Linked DNA regions of Homo sapiens: region 2 is linked to region 1. Evidence: fine-mapped expression QTL. A gene starts in region 1. The other region holds a variant in brackets. All regions are shown on one strand. Distances are between the middles of the regions.

Region 1 (4,430 bases):
AAGACTCCATCTCAATAAATAAATAAAGAAAATAGTAATTGAATATTTTCCTTCAGGAAACAGCACCCTGCAGGGAGGGGAAGTCTTATGACCCTCAAAGTTTGAGAGCCTCTCTTAACTTCCCAATGGCCTCTGTCTGCTGAACCAAGAAGCCTGCAAAACAAATACGTAAGAACTGGATACCATTTCAGTCACACATGCTTGCTGACAGTCACTGATATGGTAATGCCTCCTGTACACATAGCTGACTCTGAAGACTGCTAAGAGGGTTTGGGTCTCTGCTGTACAGGACCTTGGCAGCCTGCAAGGAGATGACTCACATGGAAGTCCCCACACAAGTGCACCCAGTGTGAACTTTGGAAGCATCGGCCCATGCTCAGGCCCACAGGTAAGATGGCCAGGAGCCCCTAACCTTGAGGAAACTTGAACCACAGAGCTGCTGGCGAAGGGGGTGGGTGAAGGTCTCATGTAGCCTGTGTGATTCAGGCAGAAGTGAGAAGGACGGGTGGGAACCCACCAAGTGGACGACAAGCTGAAGGGCTCCCAGGGAGCAGACACTTCAAGGGCCCCAAAAGGCCAGGAGAAAGAAAAAAAAAAGCCGGGTATGGTGGCTCATCCCTGTAATCCAGCACTTTTGGGAGGTTGAGGCAGATGAATTGCTTGAGCCCAGAAGTTTGAGACCAGCCTGGGCCTGGGCAATGTGGCGAAACCCTGTCTCTACAAAATATACAAAAATTAGCCGGGTGTGGTGGTGCAAGCCTGTAGTCCCAGCTATTCAGGAGGCTGAGGTGGGAGGATCACATGAGCCCAGGAGGTGGAGGCTGCAGTGAGCTGTGATCGTACCACTGCACTCCGGCCTGGGGAACAGAGTGAGGCCCTGTCTCAAAAGGCCAGGAGTGGAAGACAGGCCCTAGCCAGGAGGTTTCGCGTGGCTGGCAGGGGCCTTATGAGAAGGCTGTTGCTGGGAGGGGCCTGCTGCAGATGGCTGCGGCAGACCACGGAGCTTAGCCTTCAGGATTTAGATCTGGGGATGACAGGCTCCTGTGTGCTTGTTGCGGAGCCGGGAGCACAGGCACCAGAATGATCCCAGGGCTCAGCTCCAAGGCTCCGCTGGGCCTGTGGTGGGGCAGTGAACGTGGACAAGACCTGGGCTTCAGAGGAACTTGATGACCAGGAGCCGTGGTTACCGCCTGTGCCCTGGCCTTCCTGCTCTTCAAAGGGTGTGTTCTGAGCTGAGGCGAGACCCACACGAAATCCGAGCGGGCTCCGGAGTCACCAGACACCTAGGGAAGTATGGAAGGCCCGGAAGGACACACACAGCCGGGTGAGCCCCGCAGGGAGCTGTGCAGTCTCAGGTCGTCCAGTCCTGGGGCTGCAGGCCAGTTCTCCAAGCAGGTGGTCCTGGAGGCAAGCTGGTTTTGAAAGTAGGTTCTGAAAATAGGTCAGTCCAGGAAACAAGCTCTGGAAGTAAAGAGATTCGGAAAGCAGGTTCGTTCTGGAAACAAGTTCTACAAACAGGTAGTTCTGAAAGCACGTGGGTTCCAGAGGCAGGTGCTAGAAGGATGTGGGTTCTGTACGGAGGTTCTGGAGGGAGGCGGGTTCTGGACGGAGGTTCTGGAAGGAGGCGGGTTCTGGAGGCCGGTTTTGGAAGCAGGACGACACCGACAGAGGCGCCTCGGACTGGGGCCAGGCCTGGAGCCTCCGCTCCGCGGGCAGAGAGAAGAAAGCAGGCATTGTCGGAGGACTCACACAAGCACTTGTCCCTAACAAAACCGTTTTTAAAAACCCCATTGTGAACATTTTTGGAACAAGCCTCTTAGAGGGTCCCGTTGCCGGGGTGACAGGACGAAACGGCGCGAGCGGGCAGACTCCTGGAGTCCCCGCAAAGGGAGCCGAGGAGCTAGGCGCGCCGAGTCCAGGTCCGCCCTGACTCTCAGCTTGGGACGTTCCGTATAGTTTTTTTCTCCGTTTCCCGAACTTCTCCCGCACGCTCAGCGGCCGCCGCGGCGCATGCGCAGTACAACCTGCCAGCCAGCCGCGGGCGTTCCGGCCGCGGTTGCCAGGGGTTACCGTCCCGCGGGCGGGCGGAGCTGGCCGTCCAGAGCCCGCCTTCCTGGAACTCTGGTTGGCTGATATAGCTGTCCGTCGAAGCGGCATTGCCGCCTATTGGGCAATGGCCAGCTTCGCACGCCAGACCCGTGCCCCGCCCAGCCGCGCCGCGGGCCGCCCCCACTCAGGAGGGACAGTCGGGGACCGGCGCGGGCACTCAGGAGCCCGCGGCCCAGGTGGTGCGGGCGGCCCTAGCCCGGCTGCGGAGCGCTGCGCGAGCGGCGGGCTGGCTGACCCCGAGGGACCCCCAGCGCAGCGGGTGCGGCGATGATCCTGGAGGAGAGGCCGGACGGCGCGGGCGCCGGCGAGGAGAGCCCGCGGCTGCAGGTGCGCAGAACTGGCGCGGCGGCGGGAGGAGGGGCCCGGAATCCCGGCCTTTTCCTGCCCCCCCTCGAGGCGCGTTCCGGGCGCCCCCCTCCTACGTCTCATTCGGCCCGGACGCAGGCAGGGAAACTGAGGCCAGAGCCTGCGTCCCTCCTCCTCTGAGCTCGGTGGAGGTGCTTCCAGGCCACTCATGTGAGCCGGGAAATGCGGACAGCCAAAGTCTGGATCATCCTCACCGCTGAAGCGGGTTGGGGGGACGCCCTCCTCGTGTCCCCCTTCTGGGCGGATGTGGGGCTGGGCTCTGTGAGCGCCCTCCCCACACCCGCCATCGTGTTCCTTTCCGGCACCTGTACAGCCTCCTTCCCTAGTTCGGTCCTCCCTCTGCATCCGCTCAGGAACTGCATGCCCATTGGGTGCACTGGTAGCAGCGGGCAGCGAAGCCTCCTGGGTATGGGAAACCGAGAGAGGTCTTCCCGGCTGGCCTCTTCTCACTTCCCAAACCTCCTTCCCTTCTGAAGTCCCTAACCCGGGGTGCTGACTGGGCAAGTGGGAGGGGTGGGCAGGGCTGTGGAGACCTGCTGAGTCTGTGCCTGGGAAGGAGGGGACGTCTGTGGGCCTTGCTCTGCAGCCCAGAGCCTGCTTGTTCCCTGCGGACCAGCTCGAGGCTGCCCCAGTCCTCCTGCCAGGCCCTGGGCGCCCACGCCCGCCACGGGCTTTCAGCCGCGGGCTGCTCCTGCTCCTCGCCCCGGGTGAGCCTTTGATAGCGCGCGGCCCTCCTCCCCTCTGGGACGTCAGACTGTGTTGTCCCTGGGCTGGTTCTACTCGGCTTTGGTGTTTGGGGTTAGGTCTCCTAGAGGAGGAGGCGGTGCTATCAGCCAGGGTTTGGCTTCAGGTCACTGGGCTGGTGATGCTGACCGTAGCCCTCAAGGACGCCCTTCTTGCCCACCCCGAGGCGTGCCAGAGGCTGCAGCACCTCCTGGGCACTGGAGGGAAAGAGGCAGCCTGTGCCTGCCCCCTATGAACTTGCTCTGTCAGGGCGGCCATGCCTGCAGGTGGCCTGGGACGGCACATGTTGTTTTGGGTGGAATGTTTGGGAGGCTGTACAAACAAGATGTCCCAGAGGGCTCCGGAGGTGACGCTTTTCAGGCTGGGGGCTGTGCCTGGGCTCCCTGTCCTGGCCCTCCCTGGGCTGCCACCTTGGAAAGTTGGGGAGAAGCTGTTTCCAGGCTGCCGTGTCTCTCACAGCGTCCAGAAATGACCCCACAGTCAGGGTACTGGGGAGGGGCCCGTGGGAGGTGGCAGTGGGGCGGAGGCAGGCCCTGTGTCACACGCGCACCACTCAGGCTGTCCTGCCATCTGGAAAGTCTTCCCCGATGCCTGCTGCCGGGCTAGAGTGAGGCCTGTTCCACCCCCATCAGGCTGGCCCCCAAACTGGCCCTAAAGCTCAGAGTTCAGTGGGTCAGGGGTCGGTCGTTCATCCACTTAGAGGCCACACCTGGGCCTGAGGCCCTGTGGACAGGTCTGGGTGACTTGTATTTGCCCCAGGCGTGATGAGAGCAGGCTTCCAGCAAGCGCTTACCTGGTGCCAGGGCCAGTGCTACAGCTGGAGTCCTGCCATTGGTGCCTCCCAAGCCCTGGGCCTCAGCCCGTCTGATGAACAGGGTGAGTAAGTGGCCAAGGCTGCCAAGCTGGGAAGGGGAGAAGCCTGGCACGGCCCAGGGTGGCCAACCCAGCTGCCGTCCCTCCCGCAGGGGCTGCAGGGGCTCCCGGGGGAGGACCACAAGGAATACAGCCTGGCTGTATGCAGAAGGTTCTGTGGTTTCCTGGGGAGGCCAGTGGGAGAAGGGGGAGCAGGCTGCAGAGGGAGAGCGTTGGAGCAGCAGGTGGGCAGGGTGGCTGTGCCCCCCTCACCTGGTCTCCAGCATGCCGAGTGGGTCAGCCTGAGGTTCCCCAGCCTGGCTGGACAGGAGCACCCTCTGGGTGCTGGTTACAGGTTC
Region 2 (4,327 bases), 30 kb before region 1:
ATAAAATACTGCACAATAAATTTAACAAAGGAAGTATCAAGCTTATACTCTGAAAACTGTAAAACATTGCCCAAAGAAATTAAAGACAGCCTAAATAAATGAGCAGCCATCCCATGTTCACGGACTGGATGATTTCATATGGTTAAGACAGCATTGGCCAGGTGCAGTGGCTCACGCCTGTAATCCCAGCACTTTGGGAGGCCGAGACGGGCGGATCACGAGGTCAGATCGAGACCATCCTGGCTAAAACGTCTCTACTAAAAAAATTAGCCTGGCATGATAGCAGGCGCCTGTAGTCCCAGCTATTTGGGAGGCTGAGGCAGGAGAATGGCGTGAACCCAGGAGGCAGAGCTTGCAGTGAGCCGAGATCACGCTACTACACTCCAGCGTGGGCAACAGAGCAAGACTCCGTCTCAAAAAAAAAGACGGCAATACTCCCCAAACTGATCCAAAAACTCAATACAATCCCCATCTAAATTCCAGCTGGCGTTTTTACAGAAATTGACAACCTGATCCTAAAATTCACAGGGAAATACAAGGGACCCAGAATAGCCAAAACAATGTTTGAAAAAGAATAACAAAGTTGGAGGATTCATACTTGCTGATTTCAAAACTTCAAAACTGGCCCAGGGAACACAGCAAGACCCCATCTGTACTAAAGATTTTTAAATTAGCCAGGCATGATGGTGTACACCTGTAGTAAGGGAGGAGACCACCTCTCATATTGTCTTCTGCCTAATTTCTGCCTCAAAGAAAAGAAAAAGTAGGAGTTAAAGAAAAGGCAGAAGTGAAATTCAATAGTCAAACAGCCCGGCGCCACACCCCAGGCCTGGTAGTTAAAGATCGGCCCGGACCTAATCGCTTCTGTTATCTACAGATTCCAGACTTCTTATGAGGAAGCATTGCGTAACTCCCTGTTTGGTTCTGTTCTGATCACCGGTGCATGCGGCCCCAGTTACGTAGCCCCCACTTGCACAATGTATCACGGCCCTTTCACATGGACCCCTTAGAGTTGTAAGCCCTTAAAAGGGACAGGAATCTGGACCTCGGGGAGCCCGGATCTTGAGAGGCGATTCTACTGATGCTCCCAGCTGATTAAAACCTCTTATTCCCTAAAACCGGTGTCCGAGAGGTTTTGTCTGCAACGTGTCCTGCTACAGTAGTCCTAGCTACTCAGGGGGCTGAGTGGGAGGATTGCTTGAACCCAGGAGTTCAAGACTGCAGTGAGCTATGATCAGGCTACTGCACTCCAGCCTGAACAACAGGCTCCATCTCTTAAAAAAAAATTTTTTTTTTGGCTGGGCTTGGTGGCTCACGCCTGTAATCTCAGCACTTTGGGAGGCCAAGGCGGGCGGATCACCTGAGGTCGGGAGTTCAGGACCAGCCTGACCAACATGGAGAAACCCCGTCTCTACTAAAAATTCAAAATTAGCTAGGCGTGGTGGCTCATGCCTGTAATCCCAGCTACTCGGGAGGCTGAAACAGGAGAATCACTTGAACCCGGGAGGTGGAGGCTGTGGTGAGCTGAGATCGCACCATTGCACTCCAGCCTGGGCAACAAAATGAGACTCCGTCTCAAAAAAAAAAAAATGTTAATTTTAAAAAGGGGGATAAATAATCTAAATAGACATTTCTCCAAAGATGAGATATAAAAGGCCAACAATCCTGTAAAAAGATGCTCAAAATCATCAGCCATGGGAGAAATGCAAATCCAACCCACAGTGAGGTCACCTCACACCTGGGTGGCTGCAGTCAACATGCTGGGGAGGGCGTGGAAAAGTGGCACCCACTGCACAAGGCCAGAGACACAGTTGGGGAGTCTGGGCCTGCAGACCAGAAGGGGTTTCTATGAACTGTCTGCCAATATTCCTGGGGTTGGCGGCCTCCTCCCCTTGTGCCCTCTTCTTCCCCAGGCCACTCAGGGGTTGCCCAAGGGAGCGGGGACAGGGCTTCACGCACTCTTCCTCACAGCAGGTAGGAGGACCCCTGTTTTGCATGAGAGAAACTAGGCTTAGAAAATTTAAAGAATTTCCCCAGAATCAAACAGGTGCTGAATGCAGGAGCTGATACCTATAAAGACGTTTCCCACCCAGAAGCCGGAGCTCCAAGGCTATGCAGGGACTGCCCAGGTGGGAGGCGGCGCCGCCCAGCAGACACAGCTGCGAGCAGTGGTGGAGTTTACCCCATCCAGAAGCCACACTGCAAAAGAAACAGTGACTTTGACCTTAACAATATACTTAATTTCAACTATTTCAACCAAAATACTGTCATTCAACATAATATGCTAATGCGATGGTATGCATCGTTCTTCTCAAAGCAGGCGTGCGTATCACACCCCCAGCAC[G/A]TCTCCACTGGGAGAGCTGCGCAGCTCGTGGCTGCGTACAGGACACAGCAGGGGTGACGGCTACAACTGCAGTGTGGCCCACTTGTGGCCATGTGACCTTGGCCCGGTTACTTAACCTTTTTGTACCTCAGTTTCCTCATCTGAAAAATGGACATAGCAGTACCTACTTCATAGAGGACTGACCAAAAGCAATGCCAGACACACAGCAAACACTCACTTACTGCTGGCTGCTCCCAGTACCCTACAACCCACAGCTCAAAGCTGCCGATGCAAGAGGGCACTCTGGGGGGCACCCAGGCTCCCTGGCAACCTACAGTGGGCAGGCAAAGGCCAGCACTGTAGCATTCCCACATTCCCAGCACTGGTCTACACAGCACTCCCCGCCTCCCCCACCAGGGACAGGGAGGGGAAGTGGGCCTGTGCTGGTCTAAACTGCATTCCCCTGCTCCCAGCGCTGATCTACACAGCATTCCACCCCTGCCAGCACTGGTCTACACAGCATTCCCCCCGTCCCAGCACTGGTCTACACAGCATTCCCCCACTCCCAGCACTGGTCTACACAGCATTCCCCCCGTCCCAGCACTGGTCTACACAGCATTACCCCACTCCCAGCACTGGTCTACACAGCATTCCCCCGTCCCAGCACTGGTCTACACAGCATTCCCCCACTCCCAGCACTGGTCTACACAGCATTCCCCCGTCCCAGCACTGGTCTACACAGCATTCCCCCGTCCCAGCACTGGTCTACACAGCATTCCCCCACTCCCAGCACTGGTCTACACAGCATTCCCCCACTCCCAGCACTGGTCTACACAGCATTCCCCCACTCCCAGCACTGGTCTACACAGCATTCCCCCACTCCCAGCACTGGTCTACACAGCATTCCCCCCCTCCCAGCACTGGTCTACACAGCATTCCCACACTCCCAGCACTGGTCTACACAGCATTCCCCCCTCCCAGCACCGGTCTGCACAGCATTCCCCCCCTCCCAGCACTGGTCTACACAGCATTCCCACCACCCCGTCAGGACATGGAGGGAGAGAAGGGGTGGGGTAGGGTACACACCATTTCCACCTGCTGCCTTCGGCCTTCTCCCACCCTTTCTGGCTCTCCTCCTGTGGCTTAGCTGCCTCCTGGCCATCTTTCTTCTCTCCCTCTGGACACCCCAGCATCAACTGGCTCCCCCTCCTTCCACTTCTCTCTGCTTCTGGCTGGCTTCCGGCTGCCCTGAGCTTTCTCTTCTTGGGGCTTCTTCACCAGGCCCCCCACCTCCCAGTCACCCTTTGCCCCAGGGCAATGGCGAGGCCACGCCGCTGGCTGTGGTGCCCCGTCCAGCTCACTCCCACACTGCACTTCTCTGTCTTCCTCCAGGTCCTGAGCTTTTCATTTCTTTGGTTTTCGAGTCCCCTCTTCCCCAGCTTTGTCTGTCTCCCTCTTCTTTTCTTTTCTGGAAACCAAGGCCTCCTGTCCCACTTTTGTGCCACTACCTAATTTGTCACTTTCTTCTTTCTTGGTTTTTCCCACCCACACTTCTTTTACATCCTCGTCCTCGTTCTGTGCTTGTCTCCTGGCCCGTAACTCTCCTTTCTGCTCAGTGTGGCCCTGGCTCGTCCTCCGTGCTGGGGTGGGCACCATGCCCTCACTGTGCACCTGCTCCTGGCCACGCTTCGCACCTCTTCTGTGGGAACTGCTCTGTCTATCCCACTGCCCAGAGCGCGCTCCTCCCCAGCTCCCACGGCGGCCCCTGCACTCTTCCGCTCCCCACAGCTGAGGGTCTCAGGCTTGCCCCTAGCGTCCCCGCCACCCTCTTCTCGTGCTGCCGCCCCAGTGCATCTCCCCACACGTTTGTCCTGAAGCCCTTTCTCCCCTTTCTCTTCGGATATTCTTTTTTTTTTCTCAGTTTGTGCCTCTCTTCCACACAGCCCTTGCCCCGGCCAGTGTCTGTGAGCTCACAGTCCAGGTCCTCTTCCAGAGCCCCCTTCC

What was found. PIP is the estimated chance that this variant, and not a neighbour inherited with it, causes the effect.
Region 2: its variant is the best candidate, but not a certain one, in a credible set for the expression of RHPN1 in whole blood (INTERVAL, PIP 0.56).

The regions. Positions count from the first base shown.
Region 1 is chr8:143,366,612-143,371,041 of GRCh38, forward strand. It overlaps RHPN1 (rhophilin Rho GTPase binding protein 1), which reads left to right and starts at 2,265. Exons shown (of 15, transcript NM_052924.3): 1 at 2,265-2,436. The coding sequence starts at 2,377. RHPN1-AS1 (RHPN1 antisense RNA 1) reads right to left here and starts at 2,024. Exons shown (of 1, transcript NR_026785.1): 1 at 12-2,024. RefSeq lists enhancers at 1,223-1,778, 2,519-3,426, 3,427-4,333 and silencers at 1,942-2,011, 2,022-2,481, 2,682-2,731.
Region 2 is chr8:143,336,990-143,341,316 of GRCh38, forward strand. It overlaps a transcript of TOP1MT not described here. Among named protein-coding and RNA genes, the nearest start is that of TOP1MT, 4.3 kb to the left of the region's middle. RefSeq lists an enhancer at 2,148-2,885. The variant G/A (reference allele first, on the strand shown) is at 2,345.